2 linked regions of the Homo sapiens genome follow. The protein of the gene in region 2 purifies or fractionates together with the protein of the main gene of each other region. This does not show direct contact. Each region holds a gene or a part of one and is shown on either strand. Other genes may lie near its edges.

Region 1 (7,711 bases), on a different chromosome or scaffold from region 2:
GTGATCATCCTGTGATCTCCATGTCTTCTTATCCTCTAACATCTCTTCTCTTTAAAACACACTTATCTGAAACTGAATCTGACATGTGCTTTTATCACCTTACAGTCCTGGTTGGAAACCTTCATGCTCCCCACACAGGAGCATGACTATAATGGCTCTATTCTAGATGCTTAATTCCCAGAGGGGAGCCTTGGCCTGTAAAGCGTACTCATAGGCTTGACAGGGAAAGTCGTAATATCAGTCCTTTCTAGCATTGGCAAGAATAGTAAAGATGCTGTGTGTCCAAAGGCCAATCTCCAAACACAGCCTCTAGCATAACACTATACAACTAGGTAGGTAACTAATCCTTACTGAAGGTGATAGCAGGAGAAAGGAGAGGAGAATGGGGTACATTAGGCTAAAGTGACAGTTTGGGGGAACTTGATCTTCCTACTCCACAGGAGCAATACTAGGTCTTGGGTCTAGAAATGGTTAATTCTTCAGCAATGCTTGCAGCCTTTCATTATGCAATATGCAGTTGTCACTCTATAAAGTCAGTCCAAATATGAATGAACACAATGAGAACCACATGACTTGTACACACAAAAAAAGAAGTCTTACAAACAATCATAGTAAAAAAGCCAGAACAACCTACAGAGAAAAAATAAAAGCTTGTAGTTTTTACATTTTGAAATAATCATACTTTTTGGAAAACAGCACTTCCCTCATTTTTTTTGTGAGATGGTTTTAAAAGATACGGAGATATCGCAAGACAAAAATACAATAAAATAACAACAAGAGAAACAACCTTATACTGTACCTTTCCTTCAGCAAATCATATGCTGTCTGACAGTCTCTGGATTCCTTTTTTCTCAAAGCAAAGTTACTTAAAAACTGATTTTTCATGTGGCTTTGCAGGAAGTTAACTTTTAATAAACCATTTCTTGCTAAGCTTTTCTTAGCACATTTACTCAATTCCATACTTGAAAGCTACAATGCATTTCAATAACTGAAATGTATGGGATTTTATTCTAATATTAAACTCAAAAGGAAGAACTGAGACAGTCCTATGGGCATATTACTGCAGCCAAATGTGATTCACGAAGGCACTGATATTCTATAAAAGTGATTTCAAATATCAATGTATATACACGACTAATGGAATATGACCTAACCAGTCAAAATAGGCTGAATCTCATTCCTGATGTTATATCAATGCCAATAAAATTAGGAATCATATAACAAAAGCATATGGGCAGAAAATAGCTTTCTCTTATGTAAAATTCAAGTGATGGTCAAGAAATAAGATGTAATACAGTGTTTCTGATGGGTCAATGGCAAAGGTCTGGAGAAATATATTCCAGGTTTGGAGTCTTTATGGGCCAGAAACTGTCTCATAATTCCTAAATGTGACCAAATGGGAGGAATATAGGTTATTGCTCACAAGAAGAAGACGAGATGGGTCAGTATGAATACATCTCCAGCGCCAGAGGCATGGGTCAGATCATAGCCCCAGGAAGGTGGCTGGTTAGTGGGAACATCTTCACATATGACAAATTTTTGCATCCTTACCTTTAATTATTCTTTGATATTCTTTTTCATCTCTGAAAAAAAGGCTATTTTAACAGAAGTTTGTAATATCAGATTCTTTTACCCACACGAAGAAAGATAAGTGGTAATGCAATGGCGGGTGATAATGCAATTATGAAATGATGATGTATATTTCATTTTGAAATGCAGTATATGTTTCCTTTTTCTTTTGCAGGAAGACAGTTCTGGGATCCTAGGAGCATCCAATTTGTATTCAGAATTTCATTTGAGTAAGATTAACATTTAAATAGTTTGTAGTCCCTTGAGCTCAGAGTACAGTGAGATACACATACACACACTATACTATCTCTCTCTCTTTCTCTCTCTCTCTTTCTCAAGCCCTGGATATCAATTCAAAATTTGTGTGATCATTGATGTGTGTGTGTGTATATATATACACATACACAACCCTAGAACTTAAAAACTCATTAAGAATCCACAAAATAGATAACCCACACAGTGATAACCTAGAGTGACTTCCTAAACTGTGGCTGCTGGCTAACCTAGTTGATAATAACAAATACAAAGTATCCTTTTAGCAATAAGAGAGTCTTTTTGCTGCCTCAGACAAAGCTTTCTAGCTTGCTCCTTGTCCTTTGGAATTCTAGGCTGACCAACACTGAGCGGAAGCCTCACCTGGGACTTCAGGAGAGAATCTTGCAGAGTGTCGAGATACAAAAAGTTTGAGTTCTTGGTCCAAGTTGCATTCAATCAGGTTTGTGTCCCATGATCGGATTCCTAGGGAGGGAAAGAAAGACAGTTGAGAGACTTCCAGTTAGTCATTTCAGAGTGGTTTGGACAACATCACTGTAATATTTCTCAGGCTTTCAGGGAGGATGTGGGAACTCCTTTTCTGAAGAGCTTGGTGGCTTAGCAGTGGATGCCCACAAAATGGGAGGGCCAGGGAGGTCTCTCCACCAGGCCACAAGGGAGGGATAATTAGCAGTGTGGACTGAGCTTCTGCCCCTCATAAAAAGTAAATGCACCTCTTCTGGAAGAGTCAAAGAAAACAGTTGTTAGGAAAATGACAGGCTGTACTCCAGGGAGGGACTAGAAAGGGCAGGAAGATGTTAGTTCTTAAGAAGCTAAGAGGCCAACAGACTAACTCTAGCTTGTAGACAGACTAACTCCACTTGTAGGTGGCAAGAAAATGTAGAATAAAGGCAAAGAAAATACACGGGGGCTGCCATTCAAGCACGGGCCTTTGTTTCTAAAATGATGTTCTGGTAGTATACATGTGTAATTTCTTTCCTTTACCAATCCCGTTTTTGACTTTGGTTTATCGAGCCCTGGATATCAATCCAAGATTTATGTGATCTTTGATAAACAGAGTGGATCCACTCAATCTTCAAGACTTGGCCTGTCTGTCCTTCCAGGCACTTTTCTGTTACCTGAGTAGCTTGGCAGGCAGCTCTTTTATTCACAATTGTTCATTGTATTCAATTTTCTTATCCAGAGGCAAAGAAAAATGGCAACTTTTTATACTTTATAAAACATTTATGGAGTTGGGGACATGAATCAGCTATTCCTACCCTAGGCTGAACGGAAAGGAAGTCCTATCAGACTTCCTTTCCCTAGGCTGAAAGGAATATCCAGGGTGAGAGGAACAGGAGGGCAAGAGGCGGGATGAGGGCAGCTTCCTGTGCTCATGCCCTACTCTCTAGCCTCTTCCTTCCTCCTCCCACTGTCCTCTTTCTCCTGCCCTCCCAAAGGGGATGGCCCAGAGGGAACCCCAGAGAGCATCATAGAAGGGAGGTCTGGAGAGTAAGCCAGGGAAAGTTGGGGAACCCCAGAACTCTGGTGTGTGTGTGTGTTTTACATGTTTACATATTATATATTACATTTTTCCTAATAGGTTGCTCATGGTGGAGCCAGTGTGTGGTATCCATCATTGTACCTTTGTATACAGCATTCTCAATTGCCAGGAACAAATCTCTAGAACAACAGACATTTATTGCATACCTCCTAAAGGTAAGGGCTTGAACCTCTAGGTATAACACAGCAGGTGAACTATCTCTAAATTAACACCCAGTCATGTAATCATTTTTGTTGGACATTAGTCATGTATACAGACTTGAAGGAATAAATAGCAGTGTGTTACTTAAATACACACTGGATCCTTAAGGCATATTTGTATTTACCCTTGGTTATATTGTATTCAGTCTTCCTATCCTGTAAAGAATCAAGGTGGATTATACATAGACATTACAAAAAAAAAAGATTCTGGAAACTCAGTTCACTGCACATCTAAAATATCTTTAGATTACACACCACAGACCTTTTCAACCAGGAGGAATATTTTCAAATAGATGTGTGTCCACTAAATACAGGCAGAAATTTCTCATATGATCAATGGGAAGAATTCAGATGTGGAAGAGTTAACGTGCTTAAGGAAAGGTCAAATTATAAGGGAGAATTTTATGGCTCTTCCTGGAAACATTAATAGCCTCAGTTTGCATTTGTGCTAATGGAGTATTTGAATTTTAACAAGAAAGGCATGTTGAGATTTCGCAGATCTTTTTAGTGCAGAAATGATAAATGGGTTCTTTTTGTTTCACAGAGAGCTTGACAGGTTGAGAGGTCTGAATTCATTAGAATATTTTACTTCAATGTATACACTATATACTAGTCTAGTGCAAAAAAATCGAGTTCCTGTCTGAGCTGCTTAATTGGTATTGTTGACTGAATTCTCCTTGTTCCAGGTCTGAGCTCTACTTTGTCTTCTACCCTGTCAAGCTGGGTCAATAAGTTAATAATGAGACATATGCATTTAAATTAAATTCATACAATTTTTCTGTCTTTGTTCTAAGTAATGTCTAAATTGGTACATTATTTGAATGACTTCATCCAGGGTTATCTGCAGACTTGCTCTTACATTGTTACTTGCCATTTTCCCTTGGCTTCAGTTAACTTGTCATGGCACACACAATTAAATGTTTGCTTTATATTTTCATACATATTTTATTTTTGACATATTTGTAATTTAGCAATAGAAAAAGTACTAAATGATAAATCCACTTAGTAATTTCTAAATTATACTAGTAAACGGCTGATAAAAATATTTCTCATTTTTACACTCCCAATGAAACTAAAAATGTAGGGTTCTTTTTTCAAGAGAGCAATTTCCACCCAAATTGTTTCTTAGCAATGCACAACCACTACTACCACTTATAAAATAAAGGTTATGTTGGATTTGCCAGCTATTTTAGTTGGAAAGGAAAATTTTGGAATCAGGCCACTTTCCATACCAATTTTAGAAATAAAATAATTTGTAATTACTTTGTATCTCCTGCTGGATAATATTGGTAAAGGCAAAGAGTAGTTGTTAATGAAGGTTCATATTGCATTTAGTAGGTTTATGTAGTTCCCCTTTGTGCCTAACAAGGAGCCAACAGTGAGCCCTCTAAAGTTTACAGGACAGAAAAATATCTCTTTGGCCCTTCCCATATTCTCCCCTCTCTGAATCTGGCTGGAGGGCATCCTGGGGTGTTGGTGAAGAGGTTCTAAAGAGGCTTTCAGAAGCAAGTCATCCTGGTCTCTGTTGGGGAGCAGGGAAGCCCTCTTTCTAATTTTCACCCCAATATACACCAAGTCAAGCTCTTCCTGGAGGCTTTGTTTCCCCAGCATTCTAAGACTGTACCCCTTCTGGGCTTACCCAGGTGGGGGCAGAATAACTCCAGGCAGTTGGAGGCAGTGAACCCCATTCTTTCAATGTCTGGAGCCAAAAGGCATCCGTCATCTCTGAGAACAATCTGGGCCTGCTCTGTGGCTATTGCCCAGCCCTGAAAGTGAGCTCCTTGGGACCAGGGAGCAACAAAAGATCTTTCCTTCTCAGTTCTCTGACCCCAGGTGGTAGCAGTGCACACAAGGGAGGCTGACATGCACATGATATACACAGATGAGAAAAGGAGAAAAGAATAGGTTATGGGGCAGGGAGGCAGGGAGGGGTCATTAAAGAACAAGTCAGGGTGAAAAATGAGGAGAAGTCAGGTACTCTTGGTGTGTACAGGCTAGATTGTTCCAAGTTTTCCAATCATGTAAGCATTTTGCAGGGTTGTTTAATGAAACCAACAATTTAAAAAAGCACCTCCCATTTAAAAGCTAAAATTCATATTTCTAAAGGTGACAGTGGATTGAAGAAAGCAAAATGAAATGACCATGCATTGTATGTTGATGGCACATGGGTTCTATCTGACAGTTATTTGGGCCTTTGGCAAGTTGATTTTCCTTTATGGGCTTTAGTTGCTCCCTCTGAAAAACAGGCTTTTGGATATTTTTTCCAAGTACCTAAATCATTAACCTAGAATCATAAGATTATATTTGTAAAACTATGCTAAAAAGTGGTCTGAAATCAGATTGAAATCATAAACTAAATAAATGAACTAAAGGAAATGCTACATTTAGGAATGCTTTATTTCTCAGAGGAAAAAATTCTTATTTTTTCCCTTGAACTCATCTTTAATTTGCTTTTTTTCTTTTTTTAAAGCCAGCAACTTGATGTTCATAACATATGTATGTAATGACGATAATATCTTACATACAGAGCTCATAGTTTCAAAGCATTGATAATAAATAATTTAGGTCTGAGATAACATCTTACAACACAAGCAAATGAGAAGTGACATAATTATTTGCTTGTCTAAAAAGTTATAACTTATTTTTTTAAAGTAAGCCCTTAGAGAAGGTGAACAATTTAATGACCTTAAATTTGGGGACTGCCTTGTGTTTCAGCATGGATCACAGAGCTGTCGTAGATAATACCAATTAAGCAGTGCAAGCAGAAATCCATCTGTCTTCGACTTTGAAAAGTATAGGCAAATATAGTAAATTTAAGACTCTCTAACATTTAATTCTCACCACATATGGTATTGGTTTCTTATTTCCCCTGTTAAAAGAAAAGGAAAACTAAACCCCAAATCTTTCCTGGGTTTTAAATTCTCTTACCATCTTAGACTGAAGGACATTCAGTTAAGTGACATCAGAATGTAACAATGTAATCAGCTAAACTTTTATCTAAAAATGCAGAGCAGTAGATGTTACATTCATCTATCTTTTCACCAACAAATCTTGCTGATTCCCAGTGTTAACTAAAGGAAAAGTTATAATCTAACGGTAATTGAAAACATCCAACAGACACTTAATATTCTTTATATGTTTTAGTTCCTTAAAAAAAAAATGAAACAATGAAAACGTTCACAAGGCTCTAGAATTCAGTTTGCAAGACACGGATGTATGTCCTCTATGTATTAAAATAAAACCAAGAAGCAGGGTTTTGCTGAAAATGAGAACCACTAGCTAAATCCATGCTGGGGGCTAATTAGGGAGGAGAAAAAGGAGGTGCCAAAGAGTAGTAGTTGGTGGTAGCGAAAACGATTTGGAATAAAGTCCTGCATAACTAAATAAATGAAGCTAGCCTAGTCCGAGGAAACACTATTGTTCCAAACTCTGGAGGAGACATGTCCAAAGCTTTCATTATGCTTTCCGAATATAGTTGAGAAAGCAAGAGGGACCATCTCTCTTCCCTGGTTTCAAGAGGCATTTACGAAGCATCCACATTGGGACGTTCCAGGCCTGTTGATTTACTGCATTACCACCATGTCTCTACAGATTTATAGATTATTTTCTAGGCTTCCCAGAGAGCCCTCAGTAATCGGATGGCAAGAATCCAAGTCGCCAGGGTCTCCAAACCCAGAATCTCAGTTAAGGCAGGAGGGGAAATAGGAAGAAAGAGTAACAGATGCGGAACTGCCTTCCCAGCCTGCAACACACAATCATCAGAGCTGGCCCCCCTGGAGCAGCTCCATCTTGCTTCACACAACAAGGCCCAAAGGCACCAAGCAACAACAGCAGTGGCCTCTGGAGGAGGCCCAGCTGAGACCTGGCGGCTGAAGCAGCAGCTTGTCGTGCACAGGAAAACAGGACCAGCCTGCTCTGTTGCTAAGTCATCTCAGACTGTCTGAAAAGCTATGGGAGCAGGATTTTCACTTAGCGCTGGAAGGGCCTGCATCTTGAGCTGCAGCCAAGACCCCAGAACCCAGGAGAGCCATCTTCAGAGGAAAAGCAGCATCTGCTACGGTGTGTAAAGAAACGGCTCTGCTCACTCACTTGGTTGATTCTTAATGGGATCAATACAGTCATTTCG
Region 2 (7,711 bases):
TTCTATTAAAAAGTTGGTGGATTAATTTTTTCTGTTTTCTTTCTCAAGAGTACTACCCCATAAAACCCATTCCATGGTTTTATGACCCTCACTTTTGAATTGCAGCAGTACCTTCTAGCTGGACGCTTTAGTCCAGTGGTTTTCAAAACTATTTTGTTTTGTTTTGAGATGGAGGGGTACAATCTCGGCTCACTGCAACCTCTGGCATCCTGATTCAAGCGATTCTCGTCCCTCAGCCTCCTGAGAGGCTGGGATTACAGGCGGGCGCCACCACGCCCAGCTCATTTTTGTGTTTTAGTAGAGACAACGTTTCGCCATGTTGGCCAGGCTGGTCTCCAACTCCAGACCTCAGATGATCCACCTGCCTCGGCCACCTAAAGTGCTGGGATTACAGGCATGAACCACCGTGCCTGGCCCCCGTTGTTCTTTATTTATGTTATAGGCTGTGGGTACTCCCAGCTTTACCTTTATTCACATTTTTCCTTTAGAAAAGTTTGTGTTACTTTTTGCCTGAAGAATAATCTATGTTTTATTCTTCCATCAAAGCCTACCTCATCAAGTATGTTTTCTGAGTACTTTCTAGCCTGAGATATTTCACTGAATTCCTAATGTGATATACATTTGATTATATACCATCTTTTTATTCTATTTTATTACAAAATTTTAGATATCCAGAAGATAATGAGGGCCTACTGCGATGGTGCACGCCTTGTAATCTCAGCACTTTGTGGGGCTGAGGTGGGAGGATTGCTTGAGCCCAGCAGTGGGAGGTTTCAGTGAGCTATGATTGTGCCACTGCACTCTATCCTGGATGACAAAGTGAGACCCTGTCTCAAAGAAACAAAAATAAAAATAAAAACAAAACAAAAAGAAAAAAGAACAGAGCCTAATTTAATAGATACTTAGGTATTACCATCCAGTTTAAGAAATATTAATAAAAATATTACCAATACATTTGAAGCCACCATGTGTATTTCTTCTCAATTACACTCCCTTCCCATCCCCCAAAAGGTAATCACTGACATGAATTGGATATTTGTCCTTCCCATACATGCCTTTATATTTTTAGTATGTTACATATATATGTGTGTGTGTATGTGTGTGTGTGTATGTATGTGTGTGTATATATATATGTATGTATGTACACATATCAACACATAATGTTAGGCATGGGTATTAGGCCTGGCCTTGTCACTGACTTTGAAATTTGCTTCTTTGGGCATCTTCTTCTCCTCTGGGAGTTGGAGATTCCAGTGTGTAGCCCAGTTCAAGAATCATGACTCAGAGACCTAGATGATTTTTAAGGCACCTCTCACCCTCATATTCATTGATTTGGTCTCCTTAACAAGGTTTGTGTTAAACATAGGCAATAGATGTGGTCACCCATGTCACCAACTTGAGGTACCAGAGTAGTTTTTAGATTCCTTAGATTTCGTTAACATACTTGTCACTGAGGTCTTCAGAAGTCCTTTTTTTTCTTTTTAACTTTTTTTTTTTTTTTGAGATTGGGTCTTACTCTATCGCCCTGGCTGGAGTGCAGTGGCACAATCATGGCTCACTGCAGCCTTGACCTCCCTGTGCTCAGGTGATCCTCTCACCTCAGCCTCCCTGATTAGCTGGGACCACAAGCACGCACCACCATACCTAATTTTTTTTTTTTTTAATTTGTAGAGATGAGGTCTTGCCATGTTGCCCAAGCTGGCCAAAGTCGTTATTAAAAGGATTTCCCTCTGGGAAGGGAAATTCATTAAATCATAGATCCCCAACCATTTTGGCACCAGGGACCAGTCTCGTGGGAAACAATTTTTGCACAGATGGTTTGGTTGGGGGCGAAATGGTTTCAGGATGAAACTTCCACCTCAGATCATCAGGCAATAGTTAGATTATCATAAGGAGCGTGCAACCTAGATTCCTTGCATGCACAGCACAATAGGGTTCGCACTCCTATGAGAATCTAATGCTACTGATGATCTGACAGGAGCTGGAGCCCAGAGCAAGGGCGGTAATGCTCGCGTATAGCTCACCTCCTGCTGTGTTGCCTGGTTCCTAACAGGCCATGGACCAGTACTGGTCCACTGTATTGTGCTGTAAAGGAGTTGGGGACTCCTTTATTAAATGATCATTAATTAGCATTTTGGTTAGATGGAATTTGTTGGATTTATTTTATTATTTTATTATTTTTTTTGAGGTGGAATCTTGCTCTGTTGCCCAGGCTGGAGTGCAGTGGCACAATCTCGGCTCACTGCGAGCTCCGCCTCCCAGGTTCACGCCATTATCCTGCCTCACCCTCCTGAGTAGCTGGGACTGCAGGCGCCTGCCACCACACCAGGTTAACTTTTTTGTATTTTTAGTAGAGATGGGGTTTTACCGTGTTAGCCAGGATGGTCTCGATCTCATGACCTCGTGATCCACCCGCCTTGGCCTCCCAAAGTGCTGGGATTACAGGCTTGAGTTACCGCGCAGCCGAATTTATTGGATTTTTTATAGGGGAACTGCTAGCTGAGAGAAAAATGACCACATAATAGTCCAGCTTTGATAGGTAGAAAGGTAAATGACCAGAAAACATGGGCTCTTCACCAGGTGGAACCTTCATAGAAGGGAGGTGGGTCTCTATGATAGACAGGTGGGCAGCATGAAAATATATTTAATACTTGTCAAAGAGAGGACAGAATATCACTGCTGGAGTGAGACACTTTACCAGATAGGCTTGTTCCTCAAATAGGTTATAGTGTTAGTAGTTATTTAAAATGTGTAATTCGTTGATTAAGGTATGGTTGGAGGGCAGGTTAGCATTGAACAATGAAAACACTAAAAGGATAGTAAAAGAATAAGCTATTGAAGCATACTTACTCTCAAGACAGGTGAGTTCTTTAATTTAAGCTATAGTTGGATTCTGTGGCAATTTTTTATTATTATTTTTAATAGTGTGAAAGGGTAGTTTGGGGGAAATAAAATTGAAGGTTGAAGTCATATGTTAGGGGTCCTTCACGCAAATGGAAAGCTAGAAAACACTAATTTCATAAGGGCAAATGAGTGTTTGGATGGATTACCCATCAGAAAACAGATTATTATGGAAAGAAAAAGCAAAGGGATCGGGTTGAGAATATAGAGGAGTTAAGCAGAAAGTACTCATGAATTCTTCAGCATGAAGAGCCCACATCAACTTGTAGCATCTGTAGCCCGGATCTCAGGCCAGGAATTAGGAATGGAGAGAGATAGCAGATAACTCTCAGCGCTTATGAATGGAAGTGGGTGAGAGAAAGCAACACACCAGTTAAGTAGATAGTAGGAATATCACAAAGATATTATTGCAGGGAGAAGAGGGGTGGATGTCATTTTATGTGTATATTTCTAATTTATGTTTCCTTGGAATGTTGGAAAGTAAAATTGTGTGTATATCAGAGAGATTGACTAAATAGAGAGCTGGAGTTGTCTTTGAGAAGATGAACTCTAAGAACTCTTAAAAAAACCCCAGCAGACTCAGAGGAAGGCCCTAGGGAAAATTTCCAATTCTAGAGGTAGGCAAGTGGACAAAATATTCAAAGTAGTTAGTCCAAGGGGAAAAGAACCAACCAAACAGGAGCATCTCTGAATTAACAACTTGGTCCCTAAAGCATCTGCTGTCTTCCCTTTGGCTTTTCTTGGTTAATTTAGGGTGGCATTAACTTGATTAGGATTGCTTTAGGCCGTGCTGATGGGAATAGTCAGTTGGCTCTTCCTTCTTGGAGAGAGGGAGTGCGACAATAAAATTTGCAATACTTCCGGTAAACAAACTTCTGTTGCATGTCAACTAGAGAAACTCAGTCTTTAGTTGACTCTAGGAACACTTCAGGCCATCATATATTACTGGCTTTCAACATTTAAAAAAAAAAATTCATTGATACTGAGACTCAGTACAGACCCACACATTTACATAAATGGGAGGTAGAGGTGGGACAATTGCTTGAGCTCAGGAGATTGAGGCTGCAATGAGCCATGATTGTGTGGATGCATTCCATCCTGGGCAACAGAGCAAGACCCTGTCTCAAAAACGTTCATTGGGCTGGGCACGGTGGCTCACGCCTGTAATCCCAGCACTTTGGGAGGCTGAGGTGGGCAGATCATGAGGTCAGGAGATCGAGACCATCCTGGCTAACATGGTGAAACCCTGTCTCTACTAAACAAAATACAAAAAATTAGCCGGGCATGGTGGCGGGCATCTGTAGTCCCAGCTACTTGGGAGGCTGAGGCAGGAGAATCGTGTGAACTTGGGAGGCGGAGCTTGCAGTGAGCCGAGATTGCGCCACCGAACTCCAGCCTGGGCGACAGAGACTCCGTCTCAAAAAAACAACAAAAAAAATTCATTGTTTGCATACATACCGTGAATATCGACATGAAGATTACCTTGAATTTCTGAAAGTACATCATAGGAGTATATCTTGAAAAATGACTCATAGCAAAATGAGAATTACAAAGTGTTAACATTAATGATAATTAGTTTAGGTAGTATTATTTTGAGTTCTGAATTAGTTTATAGATTTATATAATACCAGACATCTTAGTATAGAGGTGAATTGAGTAAATTTTTCAGATGTTTCTGCTATCTTGATACACACACACACACACACACACACACACACACACATTTATAATTTATAATTGGCAGCTAATTTTCTTGACTCTGTTTATGGAACCAAGCCACATAGTCTCCTGTTCTCTGTTGTGTTGCTCTGTTCTTTCTGAAAACTGGCTTTCTTTACTTACTGATCACTACTCATGGCAAAATTGGCATTCGGCCTTTACTTCATTCATTTCCTCATTTATTCATACATTCAGTAATTATTAATTGTTTTCCACATTCCAGATGCTCATTGGTGAATGAAACAGGTGGGTTCTTTGCCCTCATATAACATACACTCTTGTTGTAGCTTGAGCTATGAAAGATATAAGTAGTGTGTAGAGAAAGATGGTGAAACCTGCTTAATAGGGCAGTTGGCAGAGGCTTCTCTGAGAAGGTGATATTTAAGTTGTAACCTGACATTGAGAAGTTATCCATGTGAGTAGCAAGGGAAAAGTATTCCAGGCAGGGGGGAAAGCTATGAGAAGGCCTGGAGGTGGGAAAGAGCTTAATGTGTGGGAGGAATTGAAATGACACCAGTGTGCCTGGATTGGAGAAGAGGACAGTGGCTAGAGATGAGCTCAGAGAGATGGGCACGGATTCAATGATGCCGGCCATGGAAAGGAATTTGGATTTAAGTCAGAGCTCTGTGTGCTGTCATTAAAGGTTTTTAAGCAGTTTATGTTTTTAAAACATCCTTTTGGCTGCTTTGGGTAGAGTAGATTGTAGAGGGTTAAGAATAAAAGAGAAACAAGTTAGGAAACTATTTGAATAGTTTGTGATTTGAGATGGTAGAGTCAGTGGAGATAGAAGTTGAGAGATTTGCGATATTTTGGAGTTATAAATGAAGGACTTGCTGATAGACTAGATGTGGGGAATGAGGGGAAAAAAAGAATCAATCCTGGCTCCTATGTTTTGAATTGAAACAACTTGGGGAATGAGGAAAGACCGGGAGAACAGGTTTGGATATCTATAGTCTCTTTCTTGGAATTTCATAATCCCAAGAAAGTGAATCTGATTGGCCTAAAATGTGATATTAAGTGGTTCCTTTAGAAGAGGAAGTGGGTAGGGAGGAAATGATGCACACTGATTTCTATTTTTTTTTTTTTTTTGAGATGGAGTCTTGCTCTGTCGCCCAGGCTGGAATGCAATGGTGCAATCTTGGCTCACTGCAACCTCCGCCTTATAGGTTCAAGCAATTCTCCTGCCTCAGCCTCCCAAGCCGCTGGGACTACGGGCGTGTGCCACCACACCCAGCTAATTTTTGTATTTTTAGTAGAGATGGGGTTTCACCATATTGGCCTGTCTGGTCTCGAACTACTGACCTCAGGTGATCCACCCACCTCGGCTTCCCAAAGTGCTGGGATTAAAGGCATGAGCCGCCATGCCCGGCCTGATTTCTATTTTTATCCTATTGTTTTCACTCAGTTAGAGTAGAGAATGGAAAACATATCTAGCCGTTTTTAGGTGTTGACATGTTCAGGTGTGCTGGTAACCTGCTATTTTAAAAAAAATCTTTTTATTGCAAAATAAAACATTAGTACAGAACACATGTATGGCTTGGTGAATTATTATAAGGCAGATACCTTTGTAATCACCCCTCAGGTTGAGAAATAGATCACAGTGGCCTTTCCCTATAAGTAATCATTTTCCTGACTTGTGTAGTAATAACCCAAATGTGCATTGCTAGATACTGTAGGTTAGTCTTGATGATTAAGAAATAGTAAGTTTTGGCCAGACACGGTGGCTCACACCTGTAATCCCAGCACTGTGGGAGGCCGAGGTGGGTAGATCACCTGAGGTCAGGAGATCAAGACCAGCCTGACCAACATGGCAAAACCCCATCTCTACTAAAAATACAAAAATTAGCTAGGCATGGTGGCAGGCACCTGTAATCCCAGCTACTCGGGAGGCTGAGGCAGGAGAATCCCTTGAACCCAGGAGGTGGAGGTTGCAGTGAGCTGAGATTGCACCATTGCACTCTAGCCTGGGCAACAAGAGGGAAACACTGTCTCTAGGTTGTGTTTTGTTTGTTTGTTTGTTTGTTTGTTTTTTGAGACAGGATCTTGCCCTGTCACTGAGGCTGGAGTGCAGTAGTGCAATCTCAGCTCACTACAGCCTGACCCTCCTGGGCTCAAGGGATCCTCCTGCCTCAGCCTTCTGAGGAGCTGGGACTATAGGCATTGGCCACCATGCCCAGGTAATTTGTGTATTTGTAGACATGGGGTCTTGCCATGTTGCTTAGGCTGGTCTTGAACTCCTGGGCTCAAGTGGTCTTGCCTTGGCCTCCCCAAGTGTTGGGATTATAGGCATGAGCTACAGCACCCAGCCCAAAAAGCAGTTTTGATATGAGTTGTCACTTTTAATCTTTAGTTTAGTCCTCCATCCTTTTCCTTTTCCTGTTGGAGAACCCAGGTTGTTTGTACTAGTTTCCCAGAGTTGGATTTTGCTGATTGCTTAATATAGGTCAGTTCAACATGTTCCTTTGTCTTCTGTATTTTCTGCAAACGTGCAGCTGGATCCAGAGATGGAGCAGACTCAAGTTCGATCCCTTAGGCATTGTGATATATATATATATATAGATGGGGTTTGGCAAGACCATGGGAATATCATAATGTCTAATTGTCTTTCTTTTTTGTGATGTTAGCGGCTGTGGATGGTTAGTGGGTGTTGCAATATAATGAAATTCTAAATACATCATTTTGCTTTCATTTATTAATTGGAATGTTTTTATAAAAAGTAACTTCCCCTCATCTTCTGTTTAGTTACCCAGTGGTACTGTTGATAAAGGAAAGACAGGATAAATGTTTGATTCTTTCCTTTTATTTACAAGTTTTCAAGATAACGAATTAGTTCCCTGTCTTTCTCCAAAGGTGGCCATTTTTTTTTCTTTTAAATGCCATTATGAGAAGATGGATTTAAACATACTTGATGGATTTAATCCATTGGAATCACTTTCACTGAAGCGCAAATTGTCTCACCTTTGGTTAGTGGGAGTCTCTTCAGGAGATAACATGACCCTAGTGGTTTTTGATAGTTTCCTTGTTGTCTGCTGTGATATTTGGGGCCCATCTTGTATACTTCTTGTCCTAGATCTGGAATCATCCATTTCTC

Evidence for each region.
Region 1: the proteins of STK3 (region 2) and MAP1B purify together in Homo sapiens (affinity purification with mass spectrometry; 4 studies listed by BioGRID and IntAct, with this or other methods). This does not show direct contact.

The regions. Positions count from the first base shown.
Region 1 is NC_000005.10:72,110,294-72,118,004, reverse strand, and holds part of MAP1B (microtubule-associated protein 1B), read right to left. Parts: exon of another isoform or gene 4,518-7,711; intron 2,308-4,517; coding exon 2,206-2,307; intron 1-2,205. UniProt on the Homo sapiens protein: Facilitates tyrosination of alpha-tubulin in neuronal microtubules. Phosphorylated MAP1B is required for proper microtubule dynamics and plays a role in the cytoskeletal changes that accompany neuronal differentiation and neurite extension.
Region 2 is NC_000008.11:98,815,452-98,823,162, reverse strand, and holds part of STK3 (serine/threonine-protein kinase 3), read left to right. Parts: intron 1-7,711. UniProt on the Homo sapiens protein: Stress-activated, pro-apoptotic kinase which, following caspase-cleavage, enters the nucleus and induces chromatin condensation followed by internucleosomal DNA fragmentation.